Regions from separate parts of the Homo sapiens genome. Here all the other regions are reported to be linked to region 2. The links are microRNA targets in miRTarBase. Many come from high-throughput screens and were not tested one by one. Region 2 holds a microRNA gene; each other region holds the end of a gene's coding sequence.
The links. Region 2 holds the annotated microRNA hsa-miR-515-3p (GAGUGCCUUCUUUUGGAGCGUU, at 1,634-1,655, shown strand). A microRNA usually pairs through its seed, bases 2 to 8, with sites in the 3' UTR of a target mRNA and lowers its output. Matches are read on the target gene's strand: a 7mer-m8 pairs with bases 2 to 8, a 7mer-A1 pairs with bases 2 to 7 and ends in A, and an 8mer does both.

Region 1 (4,122 bases), not on the chromosome of region 2:
TATTTATTTCTCTATAAACATACTAAAGTACAAGTATGCAGAAACTGGTAACAGTGACTACTCTGGGGAACTGGGATGGATTGAAGAATAAGGGGAATTTTAGGTTTATCAATTTTGTTCGAATTTCTTTCATTGTAAGCATATTTGCTTGTGAAATTAAAAATGTGTGTATTTTAAGTGCTCTGATAGGAGGATGTGGAGGTTTGTGTGTGGTTATCCACGCCTGGCCATTTTCAATGTGAACTTTGGGTTACTGCCTTTCCTATTGCCTTCTTTCCTTTGTGACAGGTGGGCTTGGGCATCAGCACGCTGCTGATGTATGTCCCAACTCCTCTGGCCGCCACTCACCAGTCAGGCTCCTTGGCTTTGCTCACTGGTGCTCTTTGGCTGATGAATGAACTCCGAAGAGTCCCAAAATGATTCTTAGAGGACCAGCCTCCTGGGACTGTGACTGCTTTTGAGAGCTCTTCAGAGATCATAAGAACTTGGGCTTTTCTACGAGATGACCTTGACATACCAAGTGGTTTCCAAATGGTCAACTTACTTAAAAATCTTTTCCTGTTTTGAGATAGTCACTGGATCAAGAATGCATTAAGTGTGGTTACCCTAAATGTTCCCTTTTAAATCTGCTTTTCATGTTGAAAATCAGTTTTAATGTAGAGAAAGAAATGTCTGCCATTTGCTGCTTAACAGGCTTTGTGTCAGGTTTTTCAGTGTTGGCAAGCTCTTGGTTCTACGTGGATGATTTCTACGTGGATGTTCTCCTGAGTCCTTAATTCTGCCTAAATAGAATTTCTTTATGATCTTAACTTCACTTCCATTAGGTGAAGATTGAAAGGATAGGATTGACATACCCAAAGTAGCCAGCTGGTCTTCAGCAAAAAAAAAAAAGCTAATGTCTTCTAATATCCTGATTTTCAGAAATGGGGAAATTGCAGATTTTGACAAGCTTAATGTGTATATGTAGCAAAATGGTTTTTAAGTACTTGGAAAAGGAGGTAATCGCCAAATAGTTCCATTTTTTTTTTTTTTTTTGAGACAGAGTTTCACTCTTGTTGCCCAGGCTGGAGTACAATGGCGTGATCTCAGCTCACTCTGCAACCTCCACTTCCCAGGTTCAAGCGATTCTCATGCCTCAGCCTCCCGAGTAGCTGGGACTACAGGCACAAGTCACCATGCCTGGCTAATTTTGTATTTTTAGTAGAGAAGGGGTTTCACCACATTGGCCGGGCTGGTCTTGAACTCCTGACCTCAGGTAATCCGCCCATCTCGGCTTCCCAAAGTGCTGAGATTACAGGCATGGGCCACCACGCCCAGCTAGTTCCTCTTTTGATAAGGCTGTTAACATTACAAGGTCAGAGAGAGGAATGGAATCGACAGTATAAATTGGTTCCTGAGAGGGTTTCCTAACAGCTTTGTAATAAGAAAAATATGGCCTTGATGGTGTAGTGCATGGACATCTACCCAGATAAACAAATTGTTGACTGCTGAATTAATGTGATTTTGGTCTCTATTGATATTTCATAGGGCCCTGTCTTATTCAACTTTACTTTTAAAATCAGTGATTTGGATGAAGGCATCAGAAACATCTGATTTGAGGATGGAGCAACCCAATATTGCTAATATAATAGATGACAGTGGCAACTGAAAACAGTCCCAGAATGACCCCATCGAGATGAAATTAAACAGATTAGAAATGTAACATACTCATTTAAATTAAATAAGTTGTATAAGTTTGGGCTGAAGAAACCTGGCCTTATATCATTTCATATAAAAAAGACGGGATTTTAGTTGTCCTCAGGTTCAATATGAACCAAGTAGTATTCATGTTGTTATTATATGATAACAGAAAAATTAGTGGTACTTCAGGTTTTATCAGTAGAAGTGTCACAGCCATAGTCAAAATACCCCTAACATACTGCATTTCACTCTGGGTACCAAATTTAAGCAAGATATTGATGGCCACTAAGTGTGTATCCAGAAGAAGAGATCAGAATGATGAGTCCAGAACCCCTGTCACACAGGGAATAGGTGAAGGAACTAGGGATATTTAACTGGAGCAGAGAACATCTGGAGAGAGAGCAAGATTCCTGTCCTTGAGAAGTTGAAGCCGTCTCATGCAGAAGAGGGAATGAGCTTCCATTATGCTGCAGAGCTGGCAGCAATGGATGAAAGTTGCAGGAAGTTAGTTTTAGTTCTGTAGAAGGCAAGAGTAGGGTAGACCAAATCAAATGCTCACTGGGGTCAGGCTGATGGAGACAGTAACACTGGCGAGCAGGTGCCCCAGCTCGGACTATACTGCTGAGTTCTGGTCTGTTGCTGCCACTCTACAGGTCCAGGGTTGTTAGATCTTCTGGGTTTTTGTTTTGCTTTTTGAAATAAGGAAAATAAGCTTATCTTAAGTTTATTTTTCCTTGGATATACCTAGATTCCATACAGTGACAATACAAATACAAAGGAAGAACATCTGGATTTCATCCTTGACCTCATTTACAAAGCAAAAAGAGATGCTGGATTCAGATATAAATGTTTAATTTTGCAGTGTTTAAGTCAGCAAATCTTCTGTTTTTTAAAAATAAGCCACATATCTAGATTTTTCTGTGAAAGCTCTCAATTAAGTGTTGGGAACTAATTTCAAGATTTTAAAAAATGTTATGCAGGCTTAACGTGTCTGAGAGCCATAAATGACCTAACGTTTCCCGTTAGTCTCTGAACTAGGTGATCTCAGTTCTCTTTCAACTCCAGTACTCTGTAAGTTTCTGTGACCTGTAGTGTACCATTCTCAGGTGGTGATATGGTTTGGATGTTTTGTCCCCTCCAAATCTCATGTTCAAAGTGTGACATTCAGTGTTAGAGGTGGGCCTAGTAGGAGGTATTTGGGTCATGGGGGCGGATCCCTTATGTATGACTTTGTGCCATCCCCATAGTAATGAGTGAGTTCTCACTCTGGTTGTTTATGCAAGAGCTGGTTGTTTAAAAGAGCCTGGAACTTCCTCCTCTCTCGCTTGCTCTCTCTCACCATGTGACACACTGGCTCCCCTTCACCTTCTGCCATGATTGTAAGCTTCGTGAGGCCCTCACCAGAAGCAGATGCCAGCGCCATGCTTCCTATACAGTTCTATGCAGAACAGTGAGCCAAATAAACCTCTTTTCTTTCTAAAAATTGTCAGTATTTCCTTATAGCAATGCAAGCCGACTAACACAGGTGATTCTTAGCAAAACAGTTTGTCAATTTTTCATAAATGCTGGACCCTGGCTGGGCTTATGCTATTGCCTAGAAGAGATTCCCAACTTCTCTCTTATTTGAATCTTAGAAAAATCCCAAAGCCCAAGCCTCATCTAAGACCAATTAAGTCACAATCCCTGGAGGAAGTAAAAGGCATATTTTTAAAGTTCCCCAGGTGATTCCAATGTGCAGACAAGTCTAGGGACCACTGGCTTAGGTCCTAATAGCCTAGTTACCTTAGAAAGTTCTGACTAGCTTATTCCCATTCCCTTCTAATTTCCACCCCACCTTATCATTTGATCTGCTATGTTGCTCCTATTAGTATGTTAGTAGGATATGGTCTCTTCTGGATAGAATCCTTCAAAGAAAGGGAACTGTAGTTCCTGAGGCAGGTTCCCACACCATCCTCTCCTGATCCTCAAACCCAGGTTGTCCTTAGTTAGTAACTGAGTCAGCAGAGGGCAGTATGACCCAACCCAAAGAACCATATATTAATGCTTCTACAGTTGCCTCCAAGGAAGTAGCAACTCATGAGTAAGTTAAGGTTTCAGATGTTTTACTTCATTTTTCTTTTATTACAGATGATGAGTACATTTGGAAAAACAACTGGTTGCATTTAGCTATATAACTGTATTATATCTATGAGCTTCTGGTGAATGATTATCTTAGGGTTTTTTTTGTATTTATGTTATTCCCAGCACTCCCAGACACATATCAAATATTGAATTAGTGAATGCATGAATGGAAAATGGATAATTACAGATTGATGTTCCAAATACCTTTTTCCAAAAAAACAAGTCATCACATACCTATAGGATTAAATAGATTTCCCTTAATATTTTCAAAGGTCTCTCTGCACTTACGTCCATTGTTTTTAAAACATGAAGGAAATTAAA
Region 2 (4,122 bases):
GTTTGGGATCTGGCTGGGCGTCTGCATAATCCATAGAAATCCCTGAGAGTCACTTCCCTTGGCTGACATCTCCATGTTCCTTACCCATTACCTTCCAAAGGAGACCCTTATCTGAATTACCAAAGGGGGCTTCCCAGAGCAGGGAAACCTGGTTAAATTTGTATTTCAGATTAACAGTATACTTGAGATGTACTTGAAGTAGAAATGATTGGCTGTGGGTGTCGGCATTTGTTTTTTCTAATTTTAAATATGGGACCATCATGAATTTGGGTGTCACTTTGTGCAGGGGACGTGGGAATCGCTGTCATTTTTTTTTTTTTTTAACATATGCTGCCAGAGAAGGCACTTAGGTGGAGAAATTACTCTTCGTGTGAGCATTCAGTATATAGAACTTCCTTTTCTGGGGGCAGTGTCTTATATATGATACACATTTTATCATATCATCTTCTATAGATAATATAATGATTAACACAAAACACTCTTCTACACACACAGAATACTCTTGTATCACTTTGGGTTTTTTTTCCTTCGTGTGTGTGTGTGTGTGTGTGTGTGTGTGTGTGTGTGTGTGTTATGAGACAAGGTCTGGCTCTGTCACCCAGGCTGCAGTGCAGTGTTGCAGTCTTGGCCCATGCCCCACCGCAGCCTCTGGAATAGCTGTCTGCAGGCCAGGCACGGTAGCTCAGGCATGTCGTCTCAGCACTCTTGGAGACCAAAGCAGGCTAATCACCTGGAGTCAGGAGTTTGAGACCAGCCTGGCCAAGATGGTGAAACCTCATTTCTACTAAAAGTACAAAAATTAGCCGGGCGCGGTGGCTCACGCCTGTAATCCCAGCTCTTAGGGAGGCAGAGGCAGGAGGATAGCTTGAGCCCAGGAGTTTGAGACCTGCCTGGGCAATACAGTGAGACCCTGTTCTCCACAAAAAGAAAAGAAAAAAAAGAAAAAAAAATTTTAAAAATGCAAAATTAGGTGGGCATCGTGGCACGTGCCTGTAATCCCAGGTACCCCAGAGGCTGAGACAGGAGAATTGCTGGAAACCTGGAGGCAGAGCTTGCAGTGAGCTGAGATCACGGCCCTGCACTACAGCCTGGGCAACAAAGTGAGACTTGTTTCAAAAAAAAAAAAAAAATTTATTGAGGAGCTTTTATGGCCTAGCCTGTGTTCTATCCTGGAGAATGTGTGTACAACAGTGTATATTCTTAAACATCATCTTAGATTCCATTTTGGATGCTTGCATGGGGACTGTGTGTCCCTGTACTGGGACTTATGTGAACACTTGGCTTCAAATCCATTGCTGTTCTCTAGAAATCCAGCCCAATTCTCATGGTTAAATATAAGGTATGTGTGGTAGGCATTGCTTTTTCTCTTTGGGGACAGAACTCAGGAGGATTGTCTCTTGATGAACAAGGCTAACCTGCTGAGCCTTTGAAGCAAGGAACTGGAGATGGTCCTTTTAGGGGTTTATATTCTGGATTCCAGAAAACATGCAGAGAGAGTCAATAAATGTATCTTTATTTTTGTGTCCATTTTAACCAGGTGAGGAAAATTCCGTCAAAAAACCCAGACTTTTGGAGCGAGAAGATCTCATGCAGTCATTCTCCAAAAGAAAGCACTTTCTGTTGTCTGAAAGCAGAGTGCCTTCTTTTGGAGCGTTACTGTTTGAGAAAAACCACGTTGAAGTTGATGCTGATCTTGGTAACACATTTGCAGAGCGTGCTTATCATCAGACTTGCATGATGTTGGGGTTCTGTTTTTGTTTAGTTGTTTTGCATCATGGGGTCTCTGTTGCCCAGGCTGGAGTGCGGTGGCGCTTCCAACCTAGATCTCTTGGGCTCAAGTGGTCCCGTGCTTGCTTTTTTTTTTTTTCTTGAAACAGAGTCTCTGTCTCTGGCCCAGGCTTGAGCGCAGTGGCATGTTATCTGCTCACTGCAACCTCTCCTCCCAAGTAGATGGGATTACAGGTGCACGTGCCACGACGCCTGGCTAATATTTGCATTTTTAGCAGAGATGCAGTTTCATCATGATGGCCAGGTTAGTCTCCAACTCCTGACCTCAGGTGATCCGCCTGCCTCAGCCTCCCAAAATGCTGAGATTATAGGTGTAAGCCACCCAGCCTAGCCTCCAATTTTTTTTAATGTGTGCTGCCAATGCAAGCACATATGTGTAGGAATTATTTTTCATGTGAGCACATAGTATATGGAACTTAATTTTTATTGATGTACGGTCTCAAAAATATATATTTTATCATATTCTTATTATACATGTAACATAGTCATATACACACAAAACACTCTTCTATACACAGAGAATACTCTCGTATCACTTTGGGTAATTTTTTGTTTGTGTGTGTATGTTTTTGTTTTTTTTTTAGATAAGGTCTGGGTCTGTCACCCAGGCTAGAGTGCAGTGGTGCCATCTCAGCTTATTGCAACCTCCACCTGCCACTTCAGCCTCTTGAGTAGCTGTCTACAGGCGCACACCACCACGCCCGGCTAACTTTTCTGTTTTCTCTACACATGAGGTATCACCATGTTGCCCAGGCTGGTCTCAAACTCTTGAACTCAAGTGATACTCCTGCCTCAGCCTCCTAAAGGGCTGGGTTTAGAGGTGTGAGCCACCACACCTCACCTGTACCTGTGTGTTTCTGCTCATTTTATTGAGGAGCTTTTACAGCCTGGCCTGTGGTCTCTCCTGGAGGGTGTTTGTGTGTGTGACAATGCATATTCTTCAACATCGTAGATTCCATTTTGGATGCCCCCGTCGGGACTGTGTGTCACTGTACTGGAACTCGAGTGAACACTTAGCTCAAAATCTATTGCTGTTCTCTAGAATCCAGCCCAATTCTCATGGTTAAATATAAGGTATGTATAGTCGGCATTGCTTTTTGAAACAAGGAACTGGAGATGGCCCTGATAGGGGTTTATGTTCTGGATTCCAGAAATCATGCAAACAGGGCCAATAAATGCATCTTTATTTTTGTGTCCATTTTAACCTGGTCAAGGAAAATTCCAACAAAAAATCAATGGTGCTGGAGCAAGAAGATCTCAGCCTGTGACCCTCTAGAGGGAAGCGCTTTCTGTTGTCTGAAAGAAAAGAAAGTGCATCTTTTTAGAGGATTACAGTTTGAGAAAAGCAACGTTAACGTTCATGCTGATCTCGGCAATACATTTGCAGAGCGTGCTTATCATCAGACTTGGATGAGGGTGGGCTTTTGTTCCTGGTTTGTTTGTTTTCTAAGACGGGGTCTCTTTTGCCCAGGCTGGAGAGCAGTGGCACTTCCAACCTAGCTCTCTTGGGCTCAGGTGGTCCTCTTTGCAGGGTCACGATCTCTGCTCACTACAATCTCCCCTTCCCGGGTTGAAGTGGTTCTCCCATCTCAGTCTCCTGTGTTGCTGGGAGTACAGGCCCATGCCACCACGCCCGGCTAATTTTTGTATTTTTAGCAGAGATGGGGTTTCACCGTGTTGACCAGGATGGTCTCCATCTCCTGACCTCGTAATCCACCTGCCTCGGCCTCCCAAAGTGCTGGGTTTACAGTCATGAACCACTGCACCCGGCCTTTGATCTTAATTTTCAATATGAGACCCATCATGAATTTGGGCATCACCTCTGCACAGGGGCCATGGTGATCTCTGTCACTCCATTCATTTCTTATGTGTGGAGCAAACATTTATGTGTAGGAGTAATTCTTTATGTGAGCATACAGTATATGGAACTTTCTTTTTTTTTGAGATAGGGTCTGGAAAATAAATGATGTACAGCCAGGCGCATGAGTATATGAGCAGTTTTTGTGTGTATACGACATGAGCGGTGGCTCATGCCTGCAATATCAACACTTTGGCAGGTTGAGGCGAGTGGATCACTTGAGGTCAGGAGTTTGAGACCAGCCTGACCAACATGGTGAAACCCTGTCTCTACTAAAAATACAAAAAATTAGCCAGCTATGGTGGCGCACGCCTGTATTCCCATCTGCTGGGGAAGTTGAGGGAGGAGAATCACTTGAACGGACAGATGGAGGTTGCAGTGAGCCAAGATCACGCCACCACACTCCAGCCTGGGCGAGAGAATAAGACTGTCTCAAAAAAAAAATATATATATACATATATATTTATATAGAGAGA
Region 3 (4,122 bases), not on the chromosome of region 2:
TGTGGGCTCTTTATTTTAATATGAGAGATTCCTCGGGAATCAGCAGAAGCTCGTATAATGGCTTGCCTTCCAATGTTTATGTCTGCTCTGGGCCTGACTGTGGCCTGGGAAATGAGCATGCTGTCAAGCAAGCTGAAACACTTTTCCAGGAGATCTTTCCAACTGAAGAATTCTGCCCTCCACCTCCAAATCCAGAAGACATTATCTTTGATGGTGATGATAAGCAGCCAGAGGCTCCTGGAACCAATAATGTAGTAATGGCCAAACTAGAATCCTCTGAGGAAAGCAAAAACCTAGAAAGCCCAGAGAAGCACCTTCAAAATTAGAAAAGAGCAATCTCGAAATGCTGTTTTGGACCTCCTTCATGGCATCAGAATTTTCTCATTTAAAGGACAGTTTCCCATATGAGTAATTAGAAGTGGTTATATATGATGAATGCTATGCAGATGTTGTCTTTAACTCTCAGACATTCAGCATTGAATATCTTTGTTAACCTATCAATGAGTGATTTATTGATTATTGAACATTTTGTTTAGAATGGGCTATATGACCCAGAATCTTAAAACAGAGTTAGCTTTATTTTAGTATTGGGTATATATGTAAGGGTTCCATATTAGCAACTCAGCTTAAAGGTAATGTATTTGCTAATGATCTTCAGATTTTATCTTTGTCTACAGAACAATTAGTAATACCCAAGTAATATTTTAATTACTTTTGCAGCTGTTACAGTTGCTGCGGCCTGTTCGAATAGTGAAACATACACAAATGGTAAATTATGTGGATCTTTTGCATATAATATAAATGTATAGACATGGTGGTAGGAATAGCAACTAATACAAATGCCAATATGATAATAAAATACATTTGTCTATAATCGTTTAAAGATTAGCTTTGCATGATCCTTTATGCACTGTGAAGGTCTGAAGTTTATAATACTCACTTGACCCTTGTAACTGATGAGGCAATGATGCCACCACAGTATTCTAATTTACAAAAAGAATTGGAGTTCAATTAGTGGTTGTAAAGCTCATTTTGGGGAGGTTGATTGCAAAGGAAATTTGAAAGATAAGATTTATTCTTATTTAATACTTCAGAAAATTTCTGCAGAGCCCTGCCCTGGCACTTAAAATAGCTTCCAATAAGTAACTTAGACCAAAAGGAAAAATGAAGTGCCCCAGGAGAAGATACTTCAGAAGGGCTGTTCTGAAATTCCTAAGGAGGAATTCTTAGGAATTCCTAAGGAGAAACAGAGTGAGGCCTTTTTAACCTGAGATTACAGATACTTATAAAACCCTCTATAAATAGATTACCCAAGGTTTTTCAGTGAGAATGAAACATACCACCTTGTTGGCTCTACCACTTTAATTAATATCACTATAACATAACTGATAGGAATGAATCAAAGGAGGATTTACCATGCCCTTTCGGTTGTGTCCCACTTAACAAATTGTGAAGTAACAATTTTCTGTAATCTCTCTTGCCTCTTAGCTGTTATCCAGAGTATAGAAACTTTTTTTCTCCCAGAGCCACCCAACGTCATAAAACTGGTAGTACTCTAATGGTGAAAACCTGTGGAGCTGTCAGAAGACATGAACTTGCTTTTCCTCTAGTCCAGTTTCCATTCTTCAGTCAGAGTATGATGATCCCTGTGACAGTTTTTGCTCTGAAATAGTATTTATCATGTGTTTGGTACCTAGTATTATGCTTTCTCATGACAGTTTCTCAACAATCCTGTGAGGCAAATTCGCATGTACCCTCTGTATTAGTGTGTTCTCATGCTGTTGATAAAGACACACCTGAGATGGTAATTTGTAAAGAAAAAGGTTTAATGGACTCACAGTTCCATGTGGCTGGGGAGGCCTCACAATCATGGTGGAAGGTGAAAGGCACGTCTTACATGGCGGTGGACAAGAGAGAATGAGAACTAAGTGAAAAGGGAAACCCTTTTAAAACCATCAGATATCGTGAGACTTATTTACTACCATGAGAACAGTATGGGGGAAACAACTCCATGATTCAGTTATCTCCCACCAGGTTCCTCCCACAACACGTGGGAATTATAGGAGCTACAATTCAAGATGAGATTTGAGTGGGAACACAGCCAAACCATATCACCTTCAAAGAAGAAATAAGAGAATTATTAGTAATTTGCTCAGAATCTGGTATGTGGAAGAGCCAACATGGGGACCCAGCCTTTTGTGATTCTAAAACCTTTGATCTTTCTACTAACATTCACTGTTAGAGAGTGTAGGCGCTGCAGGAGAAAGAGAAAGTGCCCACGAAAATTAGTCTAGCATTGCCGGGGGTAAAAAGCACACACTGGTCCTGCAGCTTATTGAATCAGAGAAATGTGAAGATAAGATGAACTAAACAAACATATTTTAGAGCATGGATCTCGAAGCAGAATTTGGCTAAATTTTAACAAAATGTTCTTCAGTAACACATCTCATGATCTGAAGATTGTGTTACAAAAAATATTATCAGGCCAAAATTTGTTCGGAATACACTAATTTTTGCTCCTCTATATGTGAGGAAAATGAGACTAGACAGATTTAAGTAATTGACAACTTACTTAAAGTAGCAAAGTCATGGATTGTATTGACTTTTAAAAATATAGTAAAAGTCATATTTAAACTTTATCCTAAAGTTTAAATCTAACAGAACAACTGAAATACTTGAAATAGACCTATAAAATAGTAATTAAAATGAGAAATACATAAGATGATAAATAAAATGAAGGTGAAGGTATTCCAGATCTACCGAAAAGATTTTCAGTATCACAGATTATTCATAAGAAATTGAGAAAAGGAACAATCAGAAGTTGCAAAAGATGGTATAGCCGAATATAATGGAAATAGGAAAAATTAGTCGAAAATAAAGGTTGATTTAGAAATGAAGAAAATGAATATATTTCTTAATACAAAATAAGTGGGAAATGAGAAGTTATACCAATAAAAAGCATTTAAAAATTTAGGGGATATTGTAACCCAGTATAATTTTCTGACAGGTTGGACTTTGACCCTAATGGACTTACTGGTGAACTTTTTCAAATGTTTAAATAATGTCTATCCATGTATCATGAAGGACAGTATGCTTCAAATTGTCTTTTGAGGCAGACATGTTCTCAGTACTAAAAGACATTTTTAGAAGGATTTTATTCTCAACAGATGCAAAATGCAAAATAAAATATTGGCAAACAATACAGCAACAAATAATTTACTATCACTCAGGATTATAAGGCTGGTGTTAAGCAGAACAGCCATTAAATCAGCATCAAAAGAACAAATAGTAAAATCCAAAGTATTAATTACAGATAACTTTTCAAAAATTCATCATTCACCCTTGATTTAATTATTTCTCTGGCAATGATTTAATAGACTTCTCGGAGTCTGTTAAGTACTTAAACCAAGAACTACCATTATTCCTACTGGGAAAACATAAACATTTCTCAAGTGGAAAGTAAACAGTGTTGGCACTATTTTTATATATGGTTAAAGAGACCTGTCATTGCAATAAAAGCCAGCATTCACAAAATGAGGAAGATAAGGAAAGTAGCATAAATATTTTCTATTAACATGGCTTTACAACTGCTAAAACTTATAGTATAAAAATGTACTAACAAAGACTAATTCAAGAAGTTGCAGGATACACAATTTTTAAAAATCTCATTTCTACATCTTAGCAGTGACAAACTGCAATTTAAAAAGTGTGTTTGGTTATTAATATATATGAGACTTTTAAAGAAAGTTATATAACTACATAGAGATAAATTAAGAAAGATGCCTAAATAGAAGCAAGTTTAAAGAGCTATATTTTTAAACATGAACAAACTCCCATGGGAGCCATGCCAGTGTAGTGGAAAAGTAGTACATGGGGAGATGGGGAGTTTTTTTGAAAACCAGAATTACAGTTCTCATTTCACTACTTACCAGTTGTATACTCTTGGGAAAGTCACTCCTAGTATCTATTTCACCATCTACAGAAGAGAAATACTTCACAGAATTATTGTGGGGATTAAGTTAGATAATGTGTTTTAAAATATAAAGCTACATCCAAAGAAATGCCAATATGTGACATTAGTATGAAATTTACTACAGTTCCATTTAACATTCCAACTGGTTG
Region 4 (4,122 bases), not on the chromosome of region 2:
AAGCTGGCGGATCACTTGAGGTCAGGAGTTCAAGACCAGCCTGGCCAATATGGTGAAACCTCATCTCTACTAAAAATTCAAAACATTAGCCAGGTATGGTGGTGAGTGCCTGTAATCCCAGCTACCTTGGAGGCTGAAGCGGGAGAATCGCTGGAATCACTGAGGCGGAGGTTGCAGTGAGTCGAGATTGCGCCGCCACACTCCAGCCTAGGTGACTCCGTCTCAAAAAAAATAAAATAAAACAAATAGTATCTGAAGAACCTCAGAGACGCCTGGATGGAACCGAAGAGCCCCAGGTAACTGGTAAACAAGTCTATAAATCTTAACTACTTGAAAAACTGTAAAAATATTTGTCCCCTGGTTTGGAGCACAGGGTCTGGGTGCGAGTGCCAAGGGCTGGCTCCAGGCAGGTACACAGGAAGGACGTGACCTTGAGCAGGCTAGCAACTTCCTTCACCAGCTTCCCCTGTGGCTGTAAAATGCAAATGTATTTAAGGGCTTGGCTGGGTGCCTGGCACATCATAAACACTCCACAAATGATAATGATTATTATTACAAGTAAGAATAACCAACCAAAGGGCACAGCAATAAAAGCGCATCTGCAAAAGGTGATAAGAAACAGCCACTGAGCAGGAGCTGCAGAAGGCTGACCCCAATCCCAGTCCCCACACCCACCCCACCCAGCCCTCACACACCAGGACAGACTCTGGCCAGCAAAGAGCGGTATCTAGAAAGTATCTTCTCTTTATTTAAGTTAAACAATTTTCAAGGATGGTTTCCATCTATAAAATGGACAAAGTACAAGCTCTGTACAGCAGTTCTTTTTAAAAATCAACTGGAAAAAAAAATTACCAAACTATATTTTGAATTTGCAAAACATACTCACAGATACCATCATCTGAGCTTTTATGAGGACATAAGAAAGGACCAGCACAGAGAAGACAACTAACTTCGGCACGCTTTGCTCGAAGGGCTCTTAGGAAAGAATTCTGAGTTTTAAAAACAGGAGTGGGAGGGTGAGATAGTCCTGATGATTAAAAACTAACGCAACCGCAGTAAGTCACTTTGGCACACTGTGTCATGTAAACATAGCTCACCGCAAAGGACCCCTCCCCGGCCCACCCCTGCTCTTGACGCCCGGACCATCCAAAGCCGCCTCCCAGCTCAGGGACAGGACGCCGCCCCCAGGGCATGGGCCGCACAAGGGTCTGGGTAGACACGTGGGATGATAGGAAGGCTGAGAGGGCCTAGGGGTGCGGGCGGGGTAAAGGTGAAGGGGCAAAGGATTCGTCAGAAAACGTGATTTTAAAACGAGCCAGATTCATCCATTTCCCTCCTTACAGTAGTAGCAGCTCGCAGGTCACAGGGTCTGACAGAAGAACCTGGGTGCTGGGGGCTACGCACACCCTGCTCTGGCCTGCACTCCACAGCCTCGCACAGGTACCTAAGGGGGTTTTCCTCAGGCTCCCCCCGAGCGCCCACCGTGAAAGACAGAAGCGTGCGGAGTTACTCCAGCGTGGGGGCACGCTGCCCACTCACAACACATCTGGTTGCATGGCAGGGGAGGCGGGAAGAGAAGACCTATAGGGCAGCCCTCCAGCCAGGCTTCCACCTCGGGGCCGCTGTCCTACAGTGCACACATGTGGGGCTCCCGCCGGGGAGGAAGACACACAGTGGCCCCTTTCATACAAGACACAGGGAGGAGCATGGCACCGGCACAACCTCCCAGGGTGGCTCCTAACTCCAAGGCCGCCGCTGTCCCACCGAGGGGCCTGCAGGTGTGCCTAACTGACGCTTTTCTCAGACTGCCAGGCCGTGCCAGCCTCTCTGAGACTGAGCATCTGTGTGTGCGGCGCTGGAGAAGGCGGCCAGGAGTGGAGGAGGAAGCAGGGCACCGACCACAGAGTGGCAGGGGTGACGAGGAACATTCCTGAGCACCCAGGTAGAAGCCAGGCACCTCTCCCCGTTATGACTTTCAGTTCATAACTGTCTGTGGTTTAACAGGACCCCAAGGCTCCTGTCTCCCGCCCTGAATCCTCAGTGTAAATGAGCAGGTATTGTTTGGTTCTGACCCTTCCTAATTCTTTCCCCAAAGCCCCCTGAAGCAGTCATCTTGGCCAGGCGGGGTGTGGGAGGGAGCTGCGGGCGGGGCAGGACTCGCTGCCTGGCTGGAGCTCCCCAGGCCAGCAGGTGTGCAGGACTGTGAGCCAGGCCTGTGCCCTGGCTGACGGGCTCATCCCTGACACTGCTGGCCATTAATTCTGAAGGCCCAGCGTGCAGGGCTCAGATCACAATGAAGCCAATACTAGCGTGTGACAGCTGCCTGGCATCATTGGTCTGCCCTGTCGCCAGGGGGCAGCGGTATTGCTGGCTCACACAGAGCTATGGGGTATGTCTTATATTCCTTAGAGAAAAGAAATTTAATGTAAAAAGACCCAAAGTGATATCTGTCAAAATAAGTAACCGCTCCAGGTTCACAGATACGCACAGCACGCAAGGTGGATTCTGACGCACAGTAGGGACTCTCAGGCTGACGCCCAACAGGGATGCCGGGGCCGAGGCCGGTGGTCTGGAGGAAGCCCCCCAGCTGGCCACAGCAGTAGCACCAACTGGCTGATCGGGCTCCAGGGGACAAAGGCCACCTCCTCCCTCTGTGAGAAACTGGCCCCACCGGGCTCTGGCCCCTTCTCCCGGAAGCTGCGAACGGCTTTGTGGGGAATATACAAGATGACGATGATCTACAGAAACCATAGGGAACTGACCGTACATTCTTTCTCTATATAGCTTTATATTTAGTGTCCCACCATAGAAAACTTCATCCTCAATATAGCAAGTACATGAGGTGGAGGGGAGTCTGGCCCAGGAAGACACTTGCGAATGGAGGAGCAGAGAGAGGGACTATTGACGTAAACCTGCCACGTGACACGACTCGGCTTTGTGGAAACCATACGTGATTTCGAAGGGATTGAAAATGGAGATTTCAAGAGTTCTCCTCGCTCCCCTGGGGCATGTGTGCCCCCTCCTCCCGCCCTGTCCTCAGCTCGCACGCATCCGTTCAGTTGCTTCTACCACTCCCCAGTCGGTTGTCGCTGGGTGTCACTCAGTTGCGGAGCCGGCAGAAGTGAAAGCTGGAAGGAAGAGGGGCGCTCCGGCCTGGGGAAGGGGGCCCGGCTGGGCTGCACCGAGAGGAGGGGGAGGGCAGTTCTCGCTTCTTGCCGCTGCTGTGTCTGCACAGTCGTCCGTGCCTTGCCGAAGTTTGACTTTCAGACCATGATGGAATACTGAGGTATATTAGTTTCGCGGAAAGTTTAAGAAACATAATCAATAATGTGATCACCAGACTCCACCCAATGGTGCAGGAGACAGGACGGCAGGGCCTCCCGGACCCTCCTACTGCTGCAGGTTGAGCGTGAACTTCCACTGCTGCGAAAGGGCCGGGCCACACACCTCCACGCTTAGGCCCCCGCTCTTGGCCGTGCGACTGTCCAGGCACAGGTTGCTGCCCACGTGCCTCAGCTTGGAGTTGCCCTCGATCTGTTCCCATTTCTGCAAGACACAGGAGAGTGCCTTAGAGTGTGGGCACAAGCAAAGGAGTACAAACAGATTCGTGTGAATTCAGGACCTTGTGGCTGCATTAAAAACTCACAGATAGACACGTTTTTCCCAGCCTCTCATCTGAACGGCCGAGGAGCTTGCAGCAGCCCCACAGGAAACCAGCCACAGGTGCTGCTGGGACCCAGGAAGGAAACATATTCTCTGCCTTGGATCAAAACTCAGAACGTCTCCTGCCCCAAACTTTCTGTGGGTGTCCCCTCCTCTGAGCCCCAGAGCTCTGGGCACCCACCCCTTCGTCATTAACACAGGATTTGATGTAGGGGAATTTGCATGCCTTCGTATGAAAGCTTGATCCAGTGATGGTTCACCCCAAGAAGGGATCCACACAATGCAGGGCCAGATCCTCCCCTGGCTGTTGGAAAGCAGCCCTGCCTGGAGGCCTTGGTCTGGGCACCTCCATGCTCCCACTTAGGGCTTTCTGCTCGGGGGAGCCAGAGGAACGGTGTCAGGCCAAATGTCAGGAAGAGAGATGGTTGTTTGAACAGAACATAGCATTGAGAAGCCTAT
Region 5 (4,122 bases), not on the chromosome of region 2:
TCTTTCCTTTAAGTAAAATAAAGTAAAATAATCTTTTCTTTAGATAAGAATTTATTATTGTGTTAAATAATAACATAAGAAAATATTTAAAGTACTATATATATGGTTAGAACTATACGACAATAGGAAATGAATGGATAAAATGAATAAATGAACAAACCTTATTTTAAAACACTGAAAAAAGTGAATAAAAATACCATATATCTTCTGGTCCGAAGGTAACTGTAAAACATAAAGAACAAAATCCCAAAAAAGGTAACAGGTAAAGTAGCCACAAGAGATCTGGGACAATAGACAGGATTAAATTATGTAGATATGCAAGGGAATCAATAGAAAAGAAATGTAAGCCTGTTATGAAATTCAAACATAAATAGTCCTTCTCTGAAAGTGCAGAGAATATCCAATTTTGTCTTTCTGACAACTTCTTTAGAAATCCTATTAATGTTACTTTCAGAAATTCTATGCCAGACTGACCTTATATACAAACACAATTTTAAAATTCTTTTTAAAGTAACAGGGAAAAGAGAGAGAAACTATGGTATCACTTAATAAAGCACCAATATCAAAGTGAAAAATAAGTTGGCATTTTAAACCCACATTTGCTTTATTCATCAACATTTTTTAAAGGAACAACTCTAATGATAGGTTATTCCTAATCGAAGCTCCGGGTGTCTTGTTAAAAATACAGCAACCACAGCAAATTGAAAGCCCTCACCATGTTGCACTGTCCGATGTATTCCTTTCCACAGATTGCATGTGCCCTGGGGATCATTTCCAGCCTGCAGCGTTCAGAGGACCATGCCACTTCCCATCTAAATAAAGAGTGGCTGGAGGACAGTTCATGTGGCCAGTCCACTCCATAAGGACTCTCTTCTATCCCATGCCTTCCTGTTCACACTTACTGGAGAGACTTAAATGTTCCTTTAAATCAGGGTTTACTGCACTGCAATGACTATGGATAAATGGAACTTCTCAGGCAGCAGGGTGCCAATCTGTAGTCTTATCAATGCATAAAACTGGAAGAGGGGAAAAAGGCATACAATGGAACATAAAGGCCAAATAACTGCTCTCTTCTGCTTAGCAATGATTTTGTAGTGGATTGGGAAATATAAATATTAGTTGCATGATATAAACTGTGATACGGCCTCAAAGTTTCTCTCCAAAATAGATATTTAAAGAGAAATAATGCTGTGCTTGTATATTTAATGCTACCTACCTCGGTGGATGAAAAGTCATAAATATTTAGATGTAATGCCTCTAGAACCCCAACCATGAGTATACATATAGATACTTCTTGAAACTCTCCCTTGAGACTATAAATTTGTCAATGAATCCCACAAATGGCTCTAAGAATGTTTAAACATGGGAGATAGAGTAGATTCCAAGAATAGAACATTAAAGTTACTGTATACCTCAAATCATAATCTCTACAAATAAAACAAAAATTTTTAGTCAGTTCCACAGGAAGGTTATTACCAAGGCGGGTAATTACAAACTATATACCTCTAGAGAAACCATGTCTCCCAAAAGGCACATGATCATGATTTTCATTTGAAATAATAATTTCATGTAAAAATAGGTGAGGGAAGAAAGACACACAGACGAATGATAGAGATCTGTTAACTTCTCAGCTAGCCATTTGTGGATTCTTTCAAATTAGAGTTTGTGTACCTGTAACTAGGAAGCATATTTACATGAGGCACCTTATATTCAAATCTATAAACTCTTTTATAGTCAAAATAAACCTTATAGCATTAGCCTTTTGTACACTCAGTACCAGGAAACATTCAGTGCACGTTACAGTGATCTTGGTAAAAAGTCACTTTATTTGCTACATCTTTCAATCTGTCTGCCCTTCTGTTCTTGGCTTGAGCTATGTGGCAACACTGCCCAACACTCACCCAAACCTTGGCCTGATGGATCGCTTTATGGTCATATCAACAATCACATCCCTTCCTGTCATGAAAAATGCTGTTTTACATTATGTAATTTTGGATCATTAAATTGCTTTCCAAACATTTCAAAGACTTTCAAAAGAGAGGTCCATTACAGAAGACATAAACACACAGTATAAAATGCTGCCTTCTAACTCGGCCCTTCAGTTTGGGCATGATATGTAATCAAATTGATTACATATGAAGATGATATGGATTTTGTCCATGGATACTATGGGAGAGGATCAAATTTAAGAGAGTATATCTGAAAACCTGTCTGCAGATTCCATTCCTCTTAAGAACACACAGCAAATGAGGAAATCAGAAGTATACTTCAGAGCAGACCATGTGATTGAGCCCATCAATCTCCAGCCTCACTAGGGTAGCTAGCTTTCTTTTGGAATGACAGATCTGCCATTATAACAGCTATCAAACTTTGGTTTTAAAGAAGGGTCTTTTAAAATAGAATCTTATTTTCCTATGGATTAAAAATATATGTTTCAAAGCATCAGATTCTTTCCCCCACCAGCTGTTAGTGTAACTTCGCAGATGCTGCATCTCTGTGGTTTAGATCTAACTTAACCCTTTATGAATGGTTGAAGCTGCTCAACTCAAACAGTAGAATCTTCCGTCATCTTGCTTCAGAGTCAGTGCAGAATGACTTGTTGGGATTCACATCCCAGTGATGACAAATATTCTTAATCAACAGTGTCAAAGTTGTTTTTGTTAAAACAAGTCATTCATTTCACAGATAAGGGTGACTACAAAGTTTTGCCAAGGAACAAAACTTCAGGCCACAAAGGGTTAGAGTATTGGCAAACCAGAAGCTACCAGCTCACTGGCAGTACGTTGTCTCATGTGTCTTTGGTGCACTTGCTTAATCTCAGCAGCACACACTGCTGAGGGGCTGGCTCACTGGGATGAGATGGGATGGACGGATGGGATAGATGATTTCCAGGGAGCAGCCCATCGGCAGCAGAGTGGGCTCCTGCATCAGCAAACTGTGGAGGCCAGAAGTTTTGCTGGGCATTTTGTTCTCTCACTCAACTACTCACTCAATAAAACTGCCTCCAGACTGTGCACAGGTTAAAGGGATATCACATGTTTTGGACAAATACGAATTATGGAGAGACACATTTACAGCATTGACCACTATATTTACATTACCTGCTTATAGTCTTTGAAGATCACTGGATGGATGACGATGATGTGATTGTGACGGAATTTTTAGGCATTTGGCAAAATACACTTGTGTGTAACAGCTGCATTTTTTTAAAATTTTAAAAATGTTACATATATACAATTGTCCTTGTATGCTAATATAAATATGAAAAGTAAAAAACAAAACAAAAATAAAAATACATGTTTAAAGTTAGCCTATGGGATATTGGCCTTTCAAAGCTTTAAAGTCCTGCAGAAAAATCCTATATGCCTTAGCCCTGCATGCTCATTTCTATTATGGGATGTTGTTTCCTTAAATATGGAAAACAATAAACAGAAGCTTCATGCATATAGCATTACTGTTTACAGTGAGGATGTGCCTCAGAACGTCAAGTTCTGAATCCACTATTGTACCTTAGGAAACTTGCTACATTTGGGTCATGTGAGTTAACTTTATGAATATTTCTACATATTATCTGTCATGCGGATTATCCATTAACATACCAGTACCTTTATTGTTCCATGTTATAGTGTAATATTTCAGTAGTTCTTTTCATGGTTAGTTAAATCCTAAGCCAATGACAAAAAGAAAATGGTAACCAGATGTGAAACTCCGCTTCCTCTCCTCTGTAGCATCTCAGAGGGTCTTCGTATTGTCTGAAGAGCAGATAGATTTGCAGTGATTCCATGAGCCTGGGTTTCTATAAAAGTTGAAGTAAACAGTTTTCGATGTATCACATGTAAACAGTTGATCTTAAATGGATGTCTCCCATAGCTGCACAACAGAAAAGAGCAAAATTGCACATTGTGAAAGCAGGAAGCAGATGTATTCTGAATAGGAGATGAAAAAGATTCAGTGATTCCATCCATATATATGTGATTGTGGATGCACACTCTTGCAAAGTCTAAAAAGTGGATAGAATAAACACTCCAACTTTTAGCTCTCTGTTTCCTCAAAACCTGTGTCTCAACCTTTTTAACAGCAGCCATCTTTTGATACAAAAACCATCACATCCTCATTTAATGT

Region 1: the mRNA of COX15 is a reported target of hsa-miR-515-3p. The part of its 3' UTR that is shown has no 7-base or 8-base seed match.
Region 3: the mRNA of CHML is a reported target of hsa-miR-515-3p. Seed matches in the 3' UTR shown: 7mer-A1 at 3,472-3,478.
Region 4: miRTarBase lists GALNT2 as a target of hsa-miR-515-3p. The part of its 3' UTR that is shown has no 7-base or 8-base seed match.
Region 5: miRTarBase lists ADAM22 as a target of hsa-miR-515-3p. The part of its 3' UTR that is shown has no 7-base or 8-base seed match.

Annotation. Positions count from the first base shown.
Region 1 is chr10:99,710,885-99,715,006 of GRCh38, reverse strand. It overlaps COX15 (cytochrome c oxidase assembly factor COX15), which reads left to right. Exons shown (of 9, transcript NM_078470.6): 9 at 289-4,122. The coding sequence ends at 420. It overlaps ENTPD7 (ectonucleoside triphosphate diphosphohydrolase 7), which reads right to left. Exons shown (of 13, transcript NM_020354.5): 13 at 3,766-4,122. Among named protein-coding and RNA genes, the nearest start is that of COX15, 19 kb to the left of the region's middle.
Region 2 is chr19:53,683,426-53,687,547 of GRCh38, forward strand. MIR515-2 (microRNA 515-2) reads left to right here and starts at 1,584; the gene lies at 1,584-1,666. It overlaps MIR519C (microRNA 519c), which reads left to right and starts at 3,044; the gene lies at 3,044-3,130. All of the region lies in intron 2 of LOC107985342 (a long non-coding RNA gene), which reads left to right.
Region 3 is chr1:241,630,000-241,634,121 of GRCh38, reverse strand. It overlaps CHML (CHM like Rab escort protein), which reads left to right. Exons shown (of 2, transcript NM_001381853.1): 2 at 1-4,122. The coding sequence ends at 326. The region is part of intron 1 of OPN3 (opsin 3); the gene reads left to right. Among named protein-coding and RNA genes, the nearest start is that of CHML, 8.3 kb to the left of the region's middle.
Region 4 is chr1:230,278,727-230,282,848 of GRCh38, reverse strand. It overlaps GALNT2 (polypeptide N-acetylgalactosaminyltransferase 2), which reads right to left. Exons shown (of 16, transcript NM_004481.5): 16 at 727-3,546. The coding sequence ends at 3,391. Among named protein-coding and RNA genes, the nearest start is that of PGBD5, 150 kb to the left of the region's middle. RefSeq lists an enhancer at 390-549.
Region 5 is chr7:88,196,219-88,200,340 of GRCh38, reverse strand. It overlaps ADAM22 (ADAM metallopeptidase domain 22), which reads right to left. Exons shown (of 32, transcript NM_001324418.2): 32 at 1-3,870. The coding sequence ends at 3,850. Among named protein-coding and RNA genes, the nearest start is that of SRI-AS1, 18 kb to the left of the region's middle.